Regions from separate parts of the Homo sapiens genome. Here regions 1 and 2 are each linked to region 3. Evidence: fine-mapped QTL for protein levels in blood plasma. A gene starts in region 3. Each other region holds a variant in brackets. All regions are shown on one strand. Distances are from middle to middle.

Region 1 (7,391 bases), 88 kb before region 3:
GGGAGAAAAAGTTCAGGATAAGCACAAATACATACTAGTTGTGTATATCCCTTTTTCTACCTTGTTCTATGCTTTGAAGAGTGAAAAAAAACTCACCTCTTTCTCTCTGGACCACCTGCCATCCCAACTCGTAGGAAATATCATGCCAAAAACCTCTGTGGGATGTTGCCGTTATGTCTGTTTTTACCCTTCTAACTCTATTTTGGCATACTACATGTATCAGGATTAGGTTTGGGTATGTATTGTTACTAGAAAAAAAAATGGCTTAAATTCGTTTTCCTTTTTCATGAGAAGAGTTCAAGGGTAGACAATCCAAGGCTGGAAGTGGTTCCACCATATCCTTCAGGACTGGTGCTTCTATCTGCCTTGTGTGCCATTCCCTGGCCCAGGATAACTGCTCAAGCTCCAACTATTGGGTCTGTTTCCAGCCAACAAGAAGGATAAAGGATTGCTGGATGTGGTGACAGACACCTGTAGTCCCAGCTACTGGGGAGGCGGAGGTGGGAGGATTGCTTGAGCCCAGGAATTTCAGTCCAGCCTGGGCAATGTGGTGAGACCTCATTTCAAACTGAAAAAAGGATAAAGGATCAAAATTGGCAGCATCCTTATTTAAGGACACTGCCTGAGGATAGCTTTTCATACTTCTGTTTGCCTCATGTTGGCCAGAACATACCACTGGCTGTGTCTAGCTGCAAGAGAAGCTGGGAGACAATCCCTGTGTGAGGGCAGCAATGTGCCCATTAAACACAGGATCTGTTACTAAAGGAAAATACATGTTGGGGACAGCTATTTGTCTGCTTCACTGGATTTGGCACTATTGCCTGTTAAAGGAGCCTCCCAGAGCCTGGAAGAGAGGAAGCAAGCTTTTAAGTTCTCTCAAAAAGCAGAATCTAAATTCTGGAGGAGAAAATTCCATATTCCAGATTCCCATTCCTGTGGTTATTTTCATCTAAATAAAGAGAAAACACCATTATTCAGAAAATCATATTGTCCCTGGATACAATTAGAGTAAATTCTACTTTCAAACAGCTGCTAGGCAATTTTCTGGCTTAATGTTCAGGGGAACAATTCTTTAACAAGTGTTGTTTGAGTATATAACTTCAAGTTGCAGGGGGTGGGGGGTGGTTGCAAGTACTCAGTTGGAATAGCTTTGCCTTCACTATTTTTAGACTTTGTTCTTTTTCTAAACCGAAATCACTAATACTTAACTATTTTGTGTACCTAGTGGTCACCACTTTTTGAAATACAAATAAACTATTGTTTTTAAAGGCAGTAAATTTCCCAAAGCTTTACCAGTTTCTTTGCTTATCATTGCTTCTTTTTTTTTTTTCTTTTGGAGACAGAGTCTTGCCCTGTCACCCAGGGTGGAGTGTGGTGGCGCAATCTCGGTTCACTGCAAACTCCGCATCCTGGGTTCAAGTGATTCTCATACCTCAGCCTCCCGAGTAGCTGGGATTACAAGTGCGCAGCACCATGCCTGGTTAATTTTTGTATTTTTATTAGAGACAGGGTTTTACCATGTTTGCCAGGCTGGTCTCGAATTCCTGACCTCAAGTGATCCACCCATCTCGGCCTCCCAAAGTGCTGGGATTACAGACGTGAGCCACTGCAGCCGGCCTATTCTTTAGCAAGAAAAATGAAGCCAAAAAGAAGCAATGATAACAACCAGGCGTTGCGATGAGCCGAGGAGGTGGAGGTTGCAATGAGCCGAGATCGTGCCACTGCACTCCCGCCTGGGTGACTAAGCAAGACTCTGTCTCAAAAAAAAAGAAGAGAAAAAAAGAACATACTGTTTTATGTTTGTGAGGGTCTATGATGTTATTTAAAAAAAAAAAAAAATGGTTTAGAAAGTTAAAGATGGACGGGCATTTTGCTCTCAGCACTTTTAAACTGTTCCTGAACTGCATTCTGGTATCTATACTTGCTGATGAGAAGCTTGCTGTTCCTTTGAAGCTATCACAGATTACGTACTAAGATCGTGTTTATCCTTGATGTCTTGTAGGTTAACAGTGAACTTCTGCTTTTATTTTAAATGTATATTGCCTGTCAAGAAGTAGGTTTTGATGGCTAAATGTTTCAAATAATTTTTTTTTTTTAATATATACTACTTCCTTTTTCTTTTAGAATTGTTGCATTTCTCTACTCATGTTTTCTCATTCCTGCTTTGTAGCATGAAAGTAGAAATGATGCATCTCTTCTTTGGATAAATCCCTTGCCTCTATTCCATTCTAGAACTTTGCCTACTAGTTCCCCCACAATATTCTCTTCTTCCCAGAACTTGCCAGGTTGAGTCTCCCCAGAGCCAAAGAGTTGGTTCTTCCAACAGACAAAAAGTCTCTAGTTCCTGCCTAGCAGCTGGCTCGTACAGTACTTAACTGGCAAACTTCGAGTTTATAAATGACAGGAAACGCGCCTTTCAGAAATGCTCAAACAGTAGGGAAGAAGGAATTGGCAGCTAGTGAAGCAGAGCAAGAGCTGGAATTGGCATAGTGCGTGTCGCCTTAGCTGGATGGTCTTGGCAGCATACAGTTGGATTGGCAGAAGTAATCCCAAGGGCTGCTGGCTTCAGTTTTGATAGCCTCTTTGGAGTCTTCTCAGAAGTCTCCAAAATGATAGTGTAATCTTAAAATGGCTAGCTTTCTGCTTATGAAAGAGGCAAGAGAGATTAGCACTTTTTTAGGCTTAAGGTACTCTTTAAGAAACAAAGGGCCAGGCGCGGTGGTTTATGCCTGTAATCCCAGCACTTTGGGAGGCCAAGGTAAGAGGATTGCTTGAGATCAGGCTGGGCAACATAGGGAGAACTCTGTCTCTACAAAAAAAAAAAAACTTTTTTAGATTAGCCGGGGGTGGTGGCCTTTGCCTATCCCAGCTACTTGGAAGGCTAAAGTAGGAAGATCACCTGAGCCCAGGGAGGTCAAGGCTGCAGTGATCCGTGATTGAGCCACTGCACTCCAGCCTGGGTGACAGAGTGAGACCTTGTCCAAAAAAAAAAAAATTATGAGTTGGAAGGAATTTTTTAAATCAGATGAGTGTTTCAGGGAGTCTCTTAGTCTTCCTCCTTAAGATTTCTCACAGTGGGTGCAACTCTTTTGTTGGTAAACAATTTCTAAGTAAGTAACTCACTGTGCACATTTATTATCTCTGAGAAGCCTTGGTTATCTAGTTATGGTGAAAAACTTTCTTTGCCTTTTTTTTTTTTTTTTTTTTTTTAATGTTAAAGACTTCAATATTTTGTTCAGGTCATGGAGTTGAGTAAACTTAGTTTCAGTTCCAGACCAAAATCCATTTAAAAACAACAACAAAAAAACCCAGGAGTATCTATTTTACAAGCCAAAGGGAAACCGTGGCATCCTTCCAGGTACCTGGAGGCTGATCATGTTGGCTGACATGCATGTCTCCATGCCTTTGTGATGTCTTAGATTTTGTCCCCCACAAAGTAAATACACTTAACCTTACTGTTTGCTCATACTTGTATGTCTTCACGATAGATGATTAGGAATTACTCATTGGCAGACTTCACCAGTTATGCAAACTTTCAGTTGAGCAGCTTTGTTCTTCTGTTATTTCAAGCCGTAGTTGAGAGTCTGCCAAGAAGTCCAAAGGAAGTTTTGCCGATAGGCATCTGGCACAAATCCATTGGGAAGCAGCTTATGTCCTGTGAACATCCTTCAGTCCCAAAGAATGTATCCAAGAAAAGGTTCAGACAATGCAACTAGACCTTAACTTAAATGGAAGGAATGTGTAACAAGACTGGGTAACGCTAATGGGCCTTTTCCAACCTAGGTCTCATAGACTTAAATTCAGGTGAAAAAGGCTTATAACTTTTGCTCTGCCTGCTGAGTTTTGCAAGTAAAAATTTAAATTATCTGCCTATTTGGGGTGTCCAAATCCTGACACAGGCTTGTTCTAGCATAGGCTTATTTTAGTCTCGATTTCTTTTCTTTTTTATTTTTTGAGACAGAGTCTCGCTCTGTTGCCCAGGCTCTGGAGTGCAGTGTCATGATCTTGGCTCACTGTAACCTCCACCTCCCAGATTCGAGCGATTCTCCTGCCTCAGCCTCCTGAGTAGCTGGAATTACAGTCACGTGCCCAGCTAATTTTTGTACTTTTAGTAGAGATGGGGTTTCATCATATCAGCCCAGCTGGTCTCGAACTCCTGACCTCAAGGGATCCGCCCGCCTCAGCCTTCCAAAGTGCTGGGAGTACAGGCGTGAACCACAGCACCCGGCTCATGGCTTATTCTGAATCCCATATAAGAATGAAGTGTACCAGAGAGCCAATTTAATGATTGGCAAAAGTTGACAGCATATTTATGTGAGCTGCCTTACATTCCCAGAGGAAAATTTTCTTGAAAAGTAATCTTTGGTTAAGAAGATGCTTCATGGATAGGAAA[T/C]TGGAGCAAAGGGAATTGGACGACGTTCAGAAATGTCTTCACCAAGCCTCAGACATCTGATGAGTCAACTTTTCTTCAAGACATGATTGCCAACAGCACACATCATTGTCTGTCATTCTAGGGCAGCATCTCCTGGTGTGGAAAAACACTTAGTTTGCTTCTAACTCTGCTGCTTCTATTTGACAAGTTCTGTTGCTTCTGTTTTCATTCCAGGATAGGACATTTTAAAGTCTACACATTGATTCTTCATGTATGTGCCCTTTTTTTCTGTTACATTTTGGTCCTTTTGACCCTTATCTACTGGCCACTATTCCTTTTCCAAAGCTTCACACAACATTTCTCTTAAGTTTATGCTTAAGCTTCATTTTGGGTTTGTTATTTCTCATCAGCAAAACAAGAACATGGACAGCCCTTCATCACTATGTCAGAAAGATAACTTTGTTTTTGTTTCTCACAACAGCAGCCTTGGACGTGTTCCAGGCTAAGACACATGCATGTTCGGGCCAGGCTTTCACTCTGAGGAGGATGCTGCTACATTAGTGTTCTCTGGGGATATTTAGGAATTGCTCTCTGAAACCAGTACCAGGAATAGTCATTTTTTAATAAGTAAATGAATAGTTTTTCTCTCATAGTCATGGGAAATCATGCAACTAACTTTTTAAAAAATTAGCTGCGAGGAAGCTTAAAGCCAGATTTGTATAACAGCATTTTTGGCTTCATCTTATCTTGAGTGTTCAGTTCCCTATGCTCTTATTTCTTCACCTCCTTTGTTTTATCTTTACAGATTATGTGTATTTTATAAGCAGCATAAAATTCTTTTTGGAACAAAGCCCAGGAAACAAATAATTACACAGTCATGACAAAATACTGTGGGGTAAATCTGGGAAAGTTACACATTAGGTTTAGTTTGACCATTGAAAAGGTCTTTATCACCACCAGCTTCCCCCAAGTATATTGTTCAGAAGAACATAATACGGACATTCTTAGTGAGATAAAATATTTAGATCCCACCCTTAATTTTTTTTAAAATGGTCAAGATTAACTTAATGGTCTTGATACAAGGACCAGAATGATGAAGTAATGCTAACATTGAGCACAGTTGATAGTCAGTGTTGGCATTAATTCACTTGGTCTATCCAGTTATAAAATAAAAAAGGCCATAAAGGGATAAATGACACATGGTAATTGTGTGACACACTGGGGGCTGTGAGTTATATAGTATCTTCCAAAGAGAGATGCTGTTCTTCTGACTTAAATAGTGAAGAATGAAATAATTTTATTTTGTGTTCTTTGTTGGTGAAGAGAAACAGAAGTGATCTGGCCAAGCTGTGCAGGACAGGCCCCTAACACAAATCTCCACATAATAGTTTAGTAGGAAGGCAAGTCTTCTTCTGATGTATGTGTTCTAAAAATGCTGAATAGCCAGAAGGGAGATTTCATTTAGCTAACAGCTATATTAATACTTGCAGTGTGTTACATTATCCTAGAAAACATGGAGTATGCCAGAGAACTTTGCCAAGTTGTAAACAATATGGTACAAATTTAGTACATCTGTTTATACAGGTGCTGAAGAAACAAATGATTAGAGATGGGTGGGTGATTAGAGATGATGAATTGAATTTTGGGTTAACTCTTACATAAATAAGAGGTACATGATGGGGATTGAAGATATAAAGGAAGAGACAATAGAGTTTAAGTGATTTTCATTTGTAGGAAACTAGTTGATATGGTTTGGCTGTGTCCCCACCCAAATCTCATCTTGAATTGTAATTCCCACTTGTCAGTGGGAGGTGATTGGATCATGGGGGCGGATTTCCCCCTTGCTGTTCTTGTGATAGTGAGTTCTCATGAAATCTAAGGGTTTAAAGGTGTGACACTTGCCCCATCCCTTACTCTCTCTCTCTCCCTCCTGCCGCCAAGTAAGACGTACCTTGTTACCCATTTGTCTTCCGCCACGATTGTAAGTTTTTTGAGGCCTGCCCAGCCAACTGAGTCAATTAAACTCCTTTTTTTTTTCTTTTTTTTTTTTTTCTGAGACAGTTTCGCTCTGTCACCCAGGCTGGAGTGCAGTGGCACAATCTCAGCTCACTGCAACCTCTGCCTCCCAGGTTCAAGCAGTTCTCCTGCCTCAGCCTCCCGAGTAGCTGGGACTACAGGCACACGCCACCACGCCCAGCTAATTTTTGTATTTTCAGTAGAGACGGGGTTTCACCATGTTGCCCAGGTTGGTCTCGAACTCCTGACCTCAGGTGATCCACCCACCTTGGCCTTCCAAAGTGTTAGGATTACAGGGGTGAGTCTAAACTCCTTTTCTTTATAAATTACCCATTCTTGGGTAGTTCTTTTTTTGTTTGTTTTTTGTTTTTGTTTTTGAGACAGAGTCTCACTCTGTCTCATCTGTACACACCCATCTTATGCACGTTTAAGATACTTTGCAACTTAAAAGTTTCAATTCCTTTATCTTCACCTGACAGTTATTTAGCTATATCTGAAGGTGCTTTATAAAGATTTTCAGAAAGTTCAGTTTTCCATTTTTCACTAATTCATGTAATGATGCAATCAAATTTTTAAACATAAACTTCTGTGCCTTGGTACAAATACTTCTAAGAATTTATGTAATAGAACTTCTAAGTCAAAGAGCACAAACTTTTAAAATTGACAGACAGTTCCAAATCATCATGGTCCCAAATCATCATGGTAGTACATGTATTTTATGGTCAATAAATTTATTAAAGAAAGGAAGAAATCATCTTAGTATAAATCATGCCTTTCACTTTTATGAAAAATAAAGCAGCCGGGCGCAGTGGCTCATGCCTGTAATCCCAACACTTTGGGAGGCTGAGGTGGGCGGATCACTTGAGGTCAGGCATTTGAGACCAGCCTGGCCAACATGGTAAAACCCCATCTCTACTAAAAAATACAAAAATTAGCCGGGCATGGTGGTGTGCACCTGTAATTCCAGCTATTCGGGAGGCTGAGGCAGGAGAATAGCTTGAAC
Region 2 (7,391 bases), 20 kb before region 3:
CATCACTTCCCTAAGTAGATTTGCTGTTGGATTGTAATGCCAGTCCTCAGATCCTTATTAATAAGAGTTCAATGAATTTTGTACTGAAATAGAATTAAACATTGAAAACAAAGGCCTAAATAGCTTTAGTATGGGATACACACTTTACTTGCAGTATGAAATGCTCATATGGCCATAAAACAAAACTCACCTCTGTCAGGAACAGAAATCAGGGTGCTCGTGAGAGCCAGGCTTGTGTCATCCCCCAGGGTGAGGTTCACACAGTACGTCCCAGACCCATTGAAGGTTCGTCTCACAGTCAGCAGACACATCTCATCCACATCCACAGGGCTGCAGACTGTGTTCTGGGTGATCTCGCAGGTGGGGTCAGAAATGATGGTACAGACCTCCGTGGGAATGCTGCGACAGGGGAGGTGGGCGAGGGCGCACAGGGCACAGAGAAGGGGAGAGAGGAAGGTCAGATCCATTTTACAAAGGGAAAGTCATTACATTTCTATGAAATTGAATTCCACCTCATTGTTACTCAAACTATAAGATGCTGAATTGTTAGTCTTATAATCTGCTCTTAAGCAAGCCTGTGCGCTGAGCTATGCCTTTCTCTGCATCCTCAGGAAAGTGAGGCCCTGGGGTGGAGGAGAAAAAAAAGATCTCCCCCAGGGGAAGGGGCTGATGGAAACCACGTGAAGCCCAGCTCACTCCCTCTATATTCCTTCTACATCCCTAGAATGTTCGAAGATGCAGATAGCTTGGGTGTTAGGCAGACATATTATTAGATGCCATAGTTGGCCCTGCCTAGGTTCCTGTAGAAGTGTAACAGCAACAGCAGCAGCTGTTTTTGCAGGACTTATTATGTGCCGGGCACTGAATTTTATTTATTTATTTATCTTTCCTCAGAGACCTTTGTTCTGAGTGAGTTTTAGATATATGACATGATCTTGCTTATTCCTCTCAATAGTTTTTTTGTTTGTTTGTTTGTTTTGAGACAGAGTTTTGCTCTTGTTGCCCAGGCTGGAGTGCAATGGCATGATCTTGGCTCACTGCAACCTCTGCCTCCTAGGTTCAAGAGATTCTCCTGCTTCAGCCTCCCGAGTAGCTGGGATTACAGGCACCTGCCACCACTCCTGGCTAATTTTTGTATTTTTAGTAGAGATGGGGTTTCACCATGTTGGCCAGGCTGGTCTCAAACTCCTGACTTCAGGTGATCAACCGCCTCAGCCTCCCAAAGTGCTGAAATTACAGGTATGAGCCACAGCACCCAGCCTCTCTCAATAGCTTTTTGAAGAAAGTAACATTACCCCAGTTTAACAGATGACAAATCAGGGAGAGAGATTAACGAGTCCAGGTCATACAAGCAGCCAGGGGTGGAGCTGGGACTTGAACAGAAGAGGTTTGACTCATCTGTCCTTGATGCTGGGCTACCTGCCATTGCTGTCCTGACCGCTATCTCATGGCAGCCTTCTTAGATGGAGAGACCAGGCTCTGATGCTGGACTCATGGGGCGGGGCCTGGGATGGGGACAGTCCCCCTTCTCACCAGCCAGGCCTCTCGCAGCAGCTTCACTCCCTGGGTCAGCTTTCACTGTTTTCTGCCACCCTCACCCTCATTCTGGTCCTCTCCCCAAGGTGGAGAGCTTCTTAGCTCTTCTCTTCTACCAAATAAGGCCACATCTTCATACCACTTCATTCTCCTGATTAATTTATGTATCTACACACACATATATTTTAATCAGGTAATTTATATATTATATGCAAATGATTTGCTAATGTATATTTAGTTAATCGATATAGTATTTATATATTCATTCATTTATATTTAGTTTATTACATATGGTCATGACCAAATCATAGGAAACCAAATTATATAATGCATTGGAAAGAGCTTTGTAAATTCTAAAGAGAGAGGATTATCAGGCGTTGCTATTAATGTTAGCATAGACAACTACCTGGGAGCTTAAGAGCACTCCTGTGAGCTGCTCTCTCCTGGCCACCAGCATTCCATTGGTAGGCAAGTTTTGTGATCACTGGTGGCCTCAGTTGCCTCATCTGCAAAATGGGGAGGCTCATACGATTGTTGTGAGGATTCAATATGAGAACAGGTATAAGGTGTTAAAAAATTCAGTTAAGTGTTCAAACAGTTATCATAATTATTATTCAACTTAATTGTTAAAGCTTTCTCAATTGCTCAACTGTAGCAAAACATGTGTGTGCTTGATAGCACCTCCTAGGGACCTTCCTGTCTAGGGTTACCAGTAAATAGGAATTCAAATCAATAGGAATTCAAATCAACTTAAAAGGGGTAACTGGTGGTCAATGCCTTTGTTCAGACTTGAGGTCCTCAGTTGACCCACCCATGCCTCTGTCGGAGATAATATACTCACCTCCCTTGGCAGGTCACGACAAAGTCTATTAGGGAGCTTTCAGGCCATGGCACCGGCATCAGGACGTCTGTCATCTGGATGATGTTAACCTCTAAGATTCCCTCTAACAAAATAACCCCCAGAGAAAAACACATCAAAATACAACAGAAATCAAACAAAGCCAAACAATCACTCTGGTATAGATTGAATGTTTGTGTCCCTCCGAAATTCATATGTTGAAACCCCCAAGGTGATAGCATTAGGAGGGGGGTCTTTGGGAGGTAGTTAGGTCATGAGGGTGAAGCCTTCATGTGTGAGATTAATGCCCTTATGAAAGTGACCCCAGAGAGCCCTTTTGCCTCTTCCACCACATGAGGACACAGCAAGAAGACTGCTATCTGCCATCTATGAACCAGGAAGTGAGTCCTCACCAGCCACCGAATGTGCTGGTACCTTGAACTTGGACTTCCCAGCCTTTAGAACTACGAGAAATAAATTCCTGCTGTTGGTTTATAAGCCACCCAGTCTATGGAATTCTGTTATAGAAGCCTGAATGGACTAAGGTACAGCTCTTAAGACATCAGAAAGTGAAAAAAATTAAAAAAGGAAGACAGCCCTCTTGCCATACAGAAACACATCAGATCTGGCAATCTACCCCCATAGCTTAGGATACATATCCATGCAGCATTTCCAAAGTCAAACTGAACTGTTTTTCAGTCCAGCCTAGATTTTTGTTCCTAGAGCCTTTGTGTGCATCAGAAAGTAGCACTCCATCTTGGAAAGTGTTTCAGGAAAAGGTAATCCTGGGTAGACGCAGCCCCAGGCTCAGGCCTTGGCCAGCTTCTCAAGTGGCTTGGACTCAGGGGACACTGCTTGGGCTTCCACCTCCATCCTCACTCCCAGAACTGGTGAGCACAGGTTGGGCTTCAGTTCCCCTCTGTCTTCTCTGTTGTATGCCTTAGGGCTGTGCCCAAATGCACAGCCATGTGTGGTGGCCTGCTCTTTCCCCTTTTCACATACAAGTCTGACTTTGTGAAAATTAACTAGGGGAAGACAGTGGAAGTTGTAGGAACTCGATGCTAGCCTTCCTTTACCCTACATACCCCATTCAGATGGCTGGGCTGCAGAGGCGGGATACAGGCCCAGGGCAGGCTCATTAGCATGCGGCCTTCACAGAAGGCTTGTTTCCACCAGGATGTGGAAGGAAGGCCGGGGAGGCAGGTGGGAATCTAGAAATGAATGGGGTCTTTGCTCTTGCATGTGTGGTGTCATCTTAGACAAGCAGAGGGGTGCCCTTACCACCTACCTCTACCCCTTCAGAGTTAGCAGAGAGAGTGGGTGACCCTAGGTGGAGTCTAGCATCCTTCCTCACTGGTCATCATCTTCAGCCTTACCTACAATTGTGATGGTGGCTTGAAAGTGGCCATATCTGTTAATCTGGCAGTTTTCATCAGGAATCCTACTCAGCTCCAGGGGGTTGTCACCAG[C/T]AGGTCCTGGGGTGTTTGAATCATAAGATTTTAGAGTAGTTGCTACGAACATAAAAGATACATGTGATATAATAAAAAATCTAAACATTTGCCATTTGCTTTTTAGAAAAATATCAGGAACACTATACTATGAAATTGCTATAGAAATTTGAACTAAATGTGTCATAATTTACACAGATGTGAGAGCTATAAGGTATTATAATTGCTAAATTATGTAAGGAAGCATAATCCCACATTTTGTGTGAACACAAGAAGCAAATAAGACGTTGAAACTGGCCGGGTGCAGTGGCTCATGCCTGTAATCCCAGCACTTTGGGAGGCCGAGGGGGGCAGATCATGAGGTCAGGAGATCGAGCCCATCCTGACTAACATGGTGAAACCCCGCCTCTACTAAAAAATACAAAAAATTAGCCAGGTGTGGTGGTGGGCGCCTGTAGTCCCAGCTACTCAGGAGGCTGAGGCAGGAGAATGGCGTGAAACTGGGAGGCGGAGCTTGCAGTGAGCCGAGATGGCGCCACTGTACTCCAGCCTGGGTGACAGAGCGAGACTCCGTCTCAAAAAAAGGTTGAAACTGTATTAAAATGTGTGATACAATGGTCATGAAGAAATAAACCTGGCCATACTAGATGCAGTTATATTTTAATTTTGGAAGCAGGTATTCTGGGCTCAAATTCCAGCTTCCCTTGTTTTTAGCTGTTTGAGACCACAGGCACATCATTTAATCTGTTTTTGCCTCTATTTGCTCATCTGTAAAATAAGAACAATACCTGCTGTCCTCTGGGGGCTGAACTATGAAACTTAAATGAGATAAAGTATATAAAACCTGCTGCTCATCACTGCTGCAGAGGGAGTACTTAATAAATCACAGTTTCTTTCTTTCAGTAATATGGGAAAAGATCATTCTTTCCCTGTTTGGATGTCTCACAGCTCCAAAGCTTAAATTCTAAAAGTCTTACTGTGATGAGCAGAGATGTGAGGAAGGAAAGGAGGGAATACAAGACATTTTTGAAAAATAAGCCTTGAATATAATTAGAGCAAAGAATCTAATGCCCTATTAGTTACAATTTAACAGGCTCTAATTAAGACATCGCTGCTCCTTTAGCAAGATAAAAAATCTAGAAAGAAAATAACGATACTGAAAATACAATCTTCTTTTTAATTTCAAAAGACATGTGAAGTAGACTCAGTCTTGGGGAAGGACATCAAAGCCTCATAAGAGCTGCATCTCTAACTTAGTGACATGTGAGTGAAGCAGGCTGGGAGATTTCCCCAGGGCTTCTCAGAATCGTCAGCGGGTGAACATCCCTGTGATTTTCCTGTGCCCAAAGCAGATTTCTCAGAGCAGTTCTCAGAACAGGTCTAGAAATGACTGCTCCATGGCACACACTTTGGGAAATGCTGCTCAGGTAAAGGCCAGAAAGGCCCAGACACTGTGTTAGATCGAATGCAGTGGTTTACCAGCAGGAAGAACTGTGGCAGCCTCTTGGGAATGTCCCTTGAGTTTCATATTAGTCCTCTGGAAATGACAAGACAGTCGTTCTGTCTGTCCTGAGATTCAGATGATCTACTCTACAGCAATAGGATTGTTTGTGCAGGCCATTCGAGTTCAGTAGCTCTTCTCCAGAAAACCATAAAATTTCTTCTTTTGAAAGTTCTTGACAGGCAGAATTTAGTTGTCAAGTTAGAGCATGGAATCACGACCCTGCATATTTTAAAATAAAACTTCTCTTGTTCTGCATATACTTTAGTGCTAAAAATGAAATAAAGCTTATTTTCTTAAAAAATGACCAAATAATAAAAGTCAGTGATTCTACCTTAGATAGAATGCTTTTAAAATGCATATGGAGGCCAGGCATGGTGGCTCACACCTGTAATCCCAGCACTTTGGGAGGCTGAGGTAGGTGGATCACTTGAGGTCAGGAGTTCGAGACCAACCTGGGCAACATGGTGGAACCTAGTCTCCATTAAAAATAAAGAAAAATTATCTGGGCATGGTGGTTCACATGCCTGTAGTGCTGGCTACTAGGGAGGCCGAAGCAGGAGAATTACTTGAACCCAGAAGGCAGAGGTTGCAGTGAGCTGAGATTGCACTACTGCACTCCAGCCTGGGCAACAGAGCAAGACTCTATCTCAAAAAAAAAATAAAAATAAAAATAAAAAAGCATATGGAGCTTCGCAAACATTGTGTCTATAAAGTCAAGGTATGATTCAAGGGCTAATGGAGAGAAACGCACACCTTAAAAGACAGATGAGAAAGAAGGTCAACTTCATCCTTAATTTGGTATTTATGTCCCTGTTGCCCAGAGAACGGTGTGAGAGCTCTTGATTCTCTGGGAAAGTTCTCTATGATATGATGTTATTTTATATATAGAGAGAGTATTACAGTAATTAGCATCAGTCTTACAAAAGGTTTTTTTTTTTTTTTTCAGATTTGTTCACAAGTCTGAAAAACAAATAATAGCACTGTTAGCTAAGTGAAGAGAATTCCGTGACTTAAAAATAGCACACATGCATCTGCCCTCAGATTTAAACACATCTACCTGGGTCACCTCTTCAACTGGCTTCTGCCTCACTCCTGCATTTGCATTTGATTTCTATTTTCGGCTGTGCATTATTAAGAAGCCACTTACCAAAGCAGAGAGAACATATTTTTTGGCCAAACAATAATATAATACTTGGTCATCCAAGCCCTTTAATATGGCCTGTACAGCTGGAAATGCTCCCTAGAAGAGACCCCTTTTAGAAACGTCCCTCCTCGCTCTCCCTAAGAGAGATGCTGGTTTAAGGCATTTTGGGGTTGATTATGATTGATCTAACACCTTTAGATAAAGCCAGGCAGCTTTCCTTCGCAATAAAACTTAACTAACTTGTAGGGGTTGCTAGTTTATATCTTTTTTTTTTTTTTTTTTTGAGACAGAGTTTCTCTCTTGTCGCCCAGGCTGGAGTGCAATGGCGCGATCTCGGCTCACTGCAACCTCCACCTCCCAGGTTCAAGCGATTCTTCTGCCTCAGCCTCCCAAGTAGCTGGGATTACAGACACTCTCCACCACACCCGGCTAATTTTTATATTTTCGGTAGAGACGGGGTTTCACCATGTTGACCAGGCTGGTCTCGAACTCCTGACCTCAGGTGATCCACCTGCCTCGGCCTCCCAAAGTGCTGGGATTACAGATGTGAGCCACCATGCCTGGCCCACTAGTTTATATCTTATGGTGTCACCTAGGGAGAAATTACAACAGAAATTTTAAATAGCTTTTCATTGGCTTCAAATATATTTTTAAAACATGCTATGATATAAATAGTTTATAAGAAAAACAAGCTAGTTTAATAAAAATGCAATTCAAAGTAGACTAACATTAAACAACCTAACATTAAGTCTTTTACCATTCTGGAACTTAAATATTAAAAGCATCTGTAATTTATTTTGAATTTTATACCTGGTCCTCTTATTTGTAAAGAAGATCATTAATAGTTGTAGATAAAAAAAATTGCTTCTCCTAAAGGATTACTAGAATGAAGCTGTATATTTAAAGTTGTTCAATACAGTT
Region 3 (7,391 bases):
CTACAGACTGGGAGAAATTATTTGTAAACTACACTTCCAATAAAGGACTAGTATTTAGAATATATAAAGAATTTTCAAAACTCACTATAAGAAAACCACGGGATTCAATTAGAAAAATTGGTAAAAATTAATGAAATGATATTTCACCATTTCATTCATCTCATGGCAAATAAACACACAAGAAGATATTCAACATCATTAGCCAGTAGTGAAATATCACTATATCCCTATCAGTAAGACCTAACTAAAAAGCAGTGACAACATCAAATGCTTGCAAGGATGTAGAGAAACTGGATTGCTCACACATTACTAGTGGAAATGTAAAATGGTACAGCCACTCTGTTAGTTTCTTGCAAAACTAAACATGCAACTATCATACAACCAAGAAATTGTACCCTTTGGCATGCATCCCAGAGAAACAAAACTGATATTCTCACAGAGATCTGCACATGAATATTTATAGCAGCTTTATTCATAATAGCCCAAATTGAAATAACCCAGATGTCCTTTAATGGGTGAATGGTTAAGCAAACTGTGGTACATCCATACCATGGAATACTACTCTGTGACAAAGAGGAACAAACTATTGATGCAGTTACTTCAATAAATCAATAAAGTTCCAGGAAATTATGTTGGGTTTTAAAAAAAGCAAATCTCAAAAGGTTACATACTGGATAATTCCATTTGTATAGAATTTTGGAAATTACAAAATGATAAAAATGGAAACCAGATTAGTGGTTGCCAGGGACTGGGTGAGGTTTGGAAAGAGGGAAGTAGATTTGGCTATACATCTATAGCCATGAGAATACTTTGGTGATGGAGCTCTGCTGTGTTTTCACTGTATCAATGTCAATATCTGGGCTGTGATGTCCTGTTTTGCATGATGATACCACTGGGGCAAACCAGGTAAAGGGTGCATGGGGATCTCTCTGTATTATTTCTTACAACAGTATGTGAATCTATAAATACCTCACAATAAAAAGTTGAATTTAAAAATAAAGGCCGGATGCAATGGCTCATGCCTGTAATCCCAACACTTTGGAAGGCTGAGGGTGGGCGATTGCCTGAGCCCAGGAGTTCCAGACCAGCCTGGGCAACATGGCAAAACCCTGTCTCTACAAAAATTTAAAAAATAAAATAAACCCATCCGGATAAGGTGGCTCATGCCTGTAGTCCTAGCATTCTGGGAGGCCAAGGGAGGACTGAGCCCAGAAGTTTGAGGCCAGCCTGGGCAATGTAGTAAGATCCCATTTCTACAAAAAATACAAAAATTATCTGGGTGTGGTGGCACGTGCCTGTGGTCCCAGCTACTCAGGAGGCTGAGGTGGAAGATCACCTTTAGCCCAGGAGTTGGAGGCTGCAGTGAGCTGTGATCACACCACTGCACTCCAGCCTGGGTGAGAGTAAGACCCTGTCTCTAAAAAAATTGATTAAAAAAAAAAAAACCCAATAGTAAGCAGATTTTAAAAGAAAAATAAAAGCCTGTGGGGGTGGGTTTTGGGGGCAATCAATGTGAAGGTAAATTTGAGGTCGCACCCAGTGCTGCAGCCGACTCTGCCTCCACACTTTGGCATCCTTGCTGTGTCCACCAGCAGAGAGGTGGTGGCTGGGCTGCCTCCACCTACCTTGTCCACACTTTCTCCTTCCTTCAGGGCTACGAATGGAAAATGGTAGGAAATCTTTAGTGCTTGATACACTGCTACATTCTGCCTGCCCTTATTTTTTTCTGGGCAGAATATTTAGTCCAGAGCAAGGTGAACCTGGTGAATGGCTGGGTTTTGTTACACTGCCCAAGAGGCTGAGGACTCCTCTCGAGCTGACAGCGCTGATTCGGCCTCCTGCTAATCTGTTTTATTGAGCAGAGCGAAGTGGACTGGTGAAAGAGGGTGGAATAATAGCAGGTGTCCCCCATCGGGTCTATTCTGTGTTCCTTCGTCTTTAAAGTAGCCTGTCCTGGGAGGTATCCTGAGGGTGGGTGCAGGTCTGCCTCCGTAGGAACAATCCCCACCATGCACGTCTCTCACGCCAAGCAGCTGATCTCACAAGAACACAATTACCCAGTTTTGCAAATGAGGAAACGAAAACTCCTCGTTTTGAAGGAAATGAGGAAATGGAGCAAAGCCACTGGAGACCCAGCCCCTAGGCTGGCGGGGAGCCCGAGCCTGTCCAACCCCAAACCCGGGCAGGAAGGACAGAGGTCGGGATGGAAGGCTGCCTCCTCAACTTACCCGCTGTGTGGCTTGGGGCGAGTTCCTTGCCCACTCTGTGGCCCGTGGCCTCGTGTGGGAAGCGGGACCATCACAGTGCCGGGCTCCGCGGGCTGCTAGGAGGACGCGCGGCGCACTGCGGGCCGGGAACGTGCTGCGCGCTGACACCGGGTCAGCTCCCTGTGATGGGACTTCCTTTCCAAAAACGTAGGCGTTTTCCCGGGTCGCAGTCGCAGTCGGGAGACTGAGGGTTAGGGCGCGGCCGCGGGGTCTCCTGGGCCGGGGCGCGGCCCACGTCTCAGGCCTCTGCGGCTCTGACCAGAAGCCGCTGCGCCTTTGGCCGCTTCCCACCCGTCCCGTCCCCGCAATCCCAGGCCCAGGGTTACAGCGGCTCAGCTCTCTTCCTCTCGCGAATCTGCACACTGCTTCAGTGGTCTGGACCCTGGCTGCATAGGCAGATCCCAAGAGGAACTTTTAAAACAAGGATCCTCTGACCCCACTCCCAAAGATTCCGGTTTCATTGCGTGGGTATCAGTATTGTTAAAAATGCCCTGGCCTCTCCTGCCTGACCAGGGTAGAGAGCCTGGGCTTCAGCTCCTCTCCCAGCAAGCTCCTGCAGGTCTGTGAGGAAGCCCCGCAGGAGGAGCAATAGCTTCAGGGCTGGGGAGATTCGTAAATTTGCCTCCAGATTGGAGACCCCATTTCATGTGAGGTCTCCACCCTTTTGGATGGAAGCTGGACATAGTTTAGTTGGTGGAGTTGCTTTGTTCTGTGGCCGGAGGCTGTCCAACCCTCCCCCAACCACTGTCTGGCAAGAATGGGTTGCAATTGCAATGGAAAAGAAGCTTCACAAGAGAAGGGCAGCATAGTTTTTACTTTCCATGAGCCGAAAGCAAAGAATGGAGCTGGAGGCATTTTGCTGTAGTTTCAGCCTTCCCAACAGTTTGCAGAAGAAGAGATGAGTGAGCCAGAGATGAAAGCTTCCTGAAGAACTTCAGTCCAACCTCTAGTTCAGAGGATATTATTAGCCATCATTTCAGCCAATGGCCAGAGAATGGGTTAAACATAGAAATTAAGGGTTACTCACGTTTGGCGGCATCAAGTGGCAATCTTGCAGCCAGGAGCAGAAATCCCAGGAAATAGTAGAGACATTCCATGCTGAATTCTCACGGACGCAGGCACTCAAGGTTTAACTCTGAATTCCTCTGGGCCCGTCCACCAAGAGCAACAGTGTTCTTCTGGCATCTGTGGTGCCTCCCTCTCTATTTTAATTAAATACAGGGCCTCGGGGAGGATCATGTGATGGTATTAAGCGGCACTGCCTGATCTGGTCTCTCAAGTTCAACCTCTTACAACTCATGTGCTTATGACTCACTCCTTCTTGGCATCTATTTATTCACTTTTCAGATGCACATTATTTCAATTTTGTGATTCCACATTTACTAGATTCAAGGAGTTTTTTTCCTATAGACTCTATTTCAATATTCATTTTTTTTTTTTGAGATGGAGTCTCACACTGTCTCCCAGGCTGGAGTGCAATGGCACGATCTCAGCTCACTGCAACTTCCACCTCCCAGGTTCAAGCCATTCTCCTGCCTCAGCCTCCTGAGTAGCTGGAATTACAGGTGCCCGCCACCATGCCCGGCTAATTTTTTGTATTTTTAGTAGAGGCAGGTTTCACTATGTTGGCCAGGCTGGTCTCGATCTCCTGACCTTGTGATCTGCCCGCCTCGGCTTCCCAAAGTGCTGGGATTACAGGCATGAGCCACCGCGCCTGGCTCAATATTCTTTACCAAATAAAATTTCAATCCTCCAGCCTCACTGATTATCGACTTACTGTGGTTCCTATACTGCATCAGGCACCCAGCTCACGTTTAGAGTTCACAGTTACGCACCCTTTCCTAAGATGTAGTTGTCCACCTGCTCCTGTGCTCGTGATTGCTTGTATATTTTTTTCCTCCAAGAGGAAGCAAAGATGGGGGAGGTGTCTTATCAATCATTTGAAATTGTGGAATACATAAGTGGATGATAACATGAATGTTGTGCCAGGATGTGCTGGAAACAGCTGCCCAGGCCTCTGGTAGCTGAGAAATTTACTCAAAAGCACATTTAGAATATCTGTGCAATTCCATATAACTTTTGTAATAACCTGCATAATTTTTGGTAACTGCTCTCAAAGCATTTATGTGTTGCATTACTCAGAGCCAATTGCATAAAACGTTCTGTGTATTTTTTCATATTATAGAAAGCAGGCATTAAATGTACAAACAAGTGTGTCTGTAAGATAAATTTATACAGTCAAATCATTCCTGGTTACAGAGTATGCAGAAAATGTGGCAACATGAAAACTTTACCATATGTGACCTTTCTCAAACTCACATTCACATGGCCATTTTCAGTGCAGTAGAAACCTTGGTTGCAGGTGAGGGTAAAACTTGGGGTATTGATTTATGGTTCAGTGTGTCAAGGAGGAATGGAAATAGCCTATGAAACTAAAATCCATACAGCAGGAGTGGCTGACTTCCATCCCTAAGGCGGCAAACAACTCTGTAGAGTGCCTTTTACAGCCTTTGCAGCAAATATGAAGGGGAAAACAACGAAAGGAACACATTATTCATGACTGAAACAATTTTCAAATATTGATGAATAAAGGAATAATGGAAATACTTATTAGTTTCATGTAATGTAAAGCGAATAATGTATATAGTTATTTGCTTTTTAAATTACTTAAAAACTTTTTTTTTTTTTTTTTTTAGAGACAGGCTCTCACTCTGTTGCCCAGGCCGGAGTGCAGTGGCATGATTATAGCTCATTGCAGCCTTGAACTCCTAGGCTCAAGTGATCCTCCCACCTCAGCCTTCCAAGTAGGTAGGACTACAGGCACACACCACCACACTCGGCTAATTTTTTATTTGCTTTTTATTTTTTGTAGAGACAAAAATCTCACTATGCTGCCCAGGCTGGTCTTGAACTCCTGGCCTCAAGTGATCTTCCCACCTCAGCTGCCTACAGCACTATTTGCTTTTTATGACAAACACATAACTTTTACAATTAAAAAAAAACACCTTTTCAATTTAAGGAAAAGCTACTATTAACATTTTTAAAGATATTTTTGTCCTTTGTTGCAGACACAGTTCTGGCTCATATTTCTAGCCAGATTAGCCACCCCGTCTCTAAATAAATTGGAAGTGTTAAATTCTTCTGTAACAAAACCTTCGTTTTGTTTAGGGAGACACAATGATCAAATCAACTTTTATGTCTTTTTTCCTTCCCTGCACCATCAAAGAGAAGAGGCACTGATAGGACAAGAGTCAAAATGTAGGCAGCTGGACAGAGGTGAATAAGAGAACAAGAGAAAGATCTTCATTCCAAAGAACTACAAGTTGGATAATCTGTTTCTTGATAATCAATGGTTGATAATATATAAAGTAGTTAACTCTATGTAGGACTCAGAGACAGGGCCATTTTGGGTAAAGAATATTCTCAAGCCTGTTTGTTTGTTTTGGAAAGATAAAATTATACTGTAAAGAAAGTTTGAAATATTTTGTTGAAATAATTTTTTGAGCTGGTGTACTGATGTGTACCTGAAGTCCCAGTGACTTCAGAGGCTGAAGCGGGAAGATTGCTTAAGCCCAGGAGTTTGAGTCCAGCCTGGGCAATGTAGTGAGACTTCATCTCTTAAGAAAGAAAGAAAGAAAAAGAAAGAAAAGAAAGAAAGAAGGAAGGAAAGAAAGAGAAAGAAAGGAAAGAAAGAAAGAGAAAGAAAGAAAGAAAGAAAGAAAGAAAGAAAGAAAGAAAGAAAGAAAGAAAAGACAAGAAAAGAAAAGAAAAGAAAAAAGAAAAGAAAGAAAAATTGTTCCGTTCAGATCCTAATTGCCAGGTCTGGTAAATATATTATATGGCTGGGGGGATGAAGGTTGCTAATCAACTCGCCTTAAGGCAATTGAGAAATGAAAAGGGAAACATCTCAATTATCTGGAATTACAGATACAATTACTCTGTTCGGAAATGATGTGGAGGAAAGCAAAGAATAGTCAACTTTTTTTTTTTTTTTTTTTTTTTTTTTTGAGGCGGAGTCTCGCTGTCGCCCAGGCTGGAGTGCAGTGGCGCGATCTCGGCTCACTGCAGGCTCCGCCCCCCAGGGTTCACGCCATTCTCCTGCCTCAGCCTCCCGCGTAGCTGGGGCTACAGGCGACCACCACCTCGCCCGGCTAATTTTTTGTATTTTTAGTAGCGACGGGGTTTCACCGTGTTAGCCAGAATGGTCTCGATCTCCTGACCTCGTGATCCGCCCGTCTCGGCCTCCCAAAGTGCTGGGATTACAGGCGTGAGCCACCGCGCCCGACCAGAATAGTCAACTTTTGAGAAATGCCCCAAATTGCCTTCTCTTGGCTTCTGACACTCCTCCTGGTGGCCACAGTCCCGACTTGAGGAGCGATGCTTGAGCTGTGAGGACTGAGGCAGCCACCCCAAAGGAGACCTTCGAAATGGCAGGCAGCAGGCACACCCAGGAATCCCGGCAGGCTGCCAAGGAATTCACATCTTTAATTTTAGGAACTGCTCAGTTTAAACTGGTATTTGAACTGTCTCCAGATTTACTAAGCTTTGAAATTACTCTCCTACCAAAATGTTTTTCCTTAGTTTTTCAGGGAAAGAAAAAAAGGAATTAACATCTTTAATTTTAGGAATTGCTCAATTTAAACTGGTGTTTGTAAGCAAGATCATAAAAATTAGTTAAGATCCTTTTCTCCCAACACATGGTCAGAAACTTGGAGTCTGAAAACAACACAAATTTATGATCTTACATTTCTGGAAGCCGAAGTGTGAAATGGCCTCACTGAACTAACATCACAGTGTTGGCAGGGCGGCTCTAGGGCAGAATTGATTTCCTTGCCTTTCCAGCTTCTAGGGGCTGCCCACATTTCCTGTCTCATTGGCCCCTCTGTCTCTGGCAGCCCTCTGGCACTGATTCCCACGTCTCCCTCTCCCACTCACAAGGACCCTTGTGATTATACTGAGCCCACCTAGATAATCTGAAATCATCTCCTTGCCTTAAGTCCAGCGGATTAGCAACCTTCATCTGCTCCTTGCCATATAACACATTTACAGGTCCTGGGGGTTAGGATGTGGAAGTCTTCGGGGACCATTATTCTGTCTAGCACAGTTATACAGCAGACGACATGG

Alleles and levels. Alleles are on the strand shown, and positions count from the first base shown. The strength of an association depends on the size of the effect and on how common the allele is. Not every link is listed here.
In carriers of allele T in region 1, the plasma level of the protein whose gene starts at base 3,447 in region 3 tends to be higher than with C alone (moderate association).

The links. PIP is the posterior inclusion probability: the model's chance that the variant is causal. The UK Biobank Pharma Proteomics Project read protein levels with antibody pairs (Olink). The fine-mapping took linkage between variants from a reference panel, not from the people measured, so its PIPs are less certain.
Region 1: its variant is fine-mapped to the plasma level of the GPNMB protein (UK Biobank, PIP above 0.99).
Region 2: its variant is fine-mapped to the plasma level of the GPNMB protein (UK Biobank, PIP above 0.99). The variant lies in the coding sequence of GPNMB. If it changes the protein, the assay may bind it differently, which can mimic a change of level.

Annotation. Positions count from the first base shown.
Region 1 is chr7:23,330,893-23,338,283 of GRCh38, reverse strand. All of the region lies in intron 10 of IGF2BP3 (insulin like growth factor 2 mRNA binding protein 3), which reads left to right. Among named protein-coding and RNA genes, the nearest start is that of MALSU1, 35 kb to the right of the region's middle. RefSeq lists a silencer at 2,320-2,614. The variant T/C (reference allele first, on the strand shown) is at 4,394.
Region 2 is chr7:23,262,975-23,270,365 of GRCh38, reverse strand. GPNMB (glycoprotein nmb) reads right to left here. Exons shown (of 11, transcript NM_002510.3): 7 at 3,751-3,849; 8 at 2,378-2,480; 9 at 191-399. Among named protein-coding and RNA genes, the nearest start is that of GPNMB, 20 kb to the right of the region's middle. The variant C/T (reference allele first, on the strand shown) is at 3,844.
Region 3 is chr7:23,242,831-23,250,221 of GRCh38, reverse strand. It overlaps GPNMB (glycoprotein nmb), which reads right to left and starts at 3,447. Exons shown (of 11, transcript NM_002510.3): 1 at 3,295-3,447. The coding sequence starts at 3,364. RefSeq lists an enhancer at 1,876-1,995.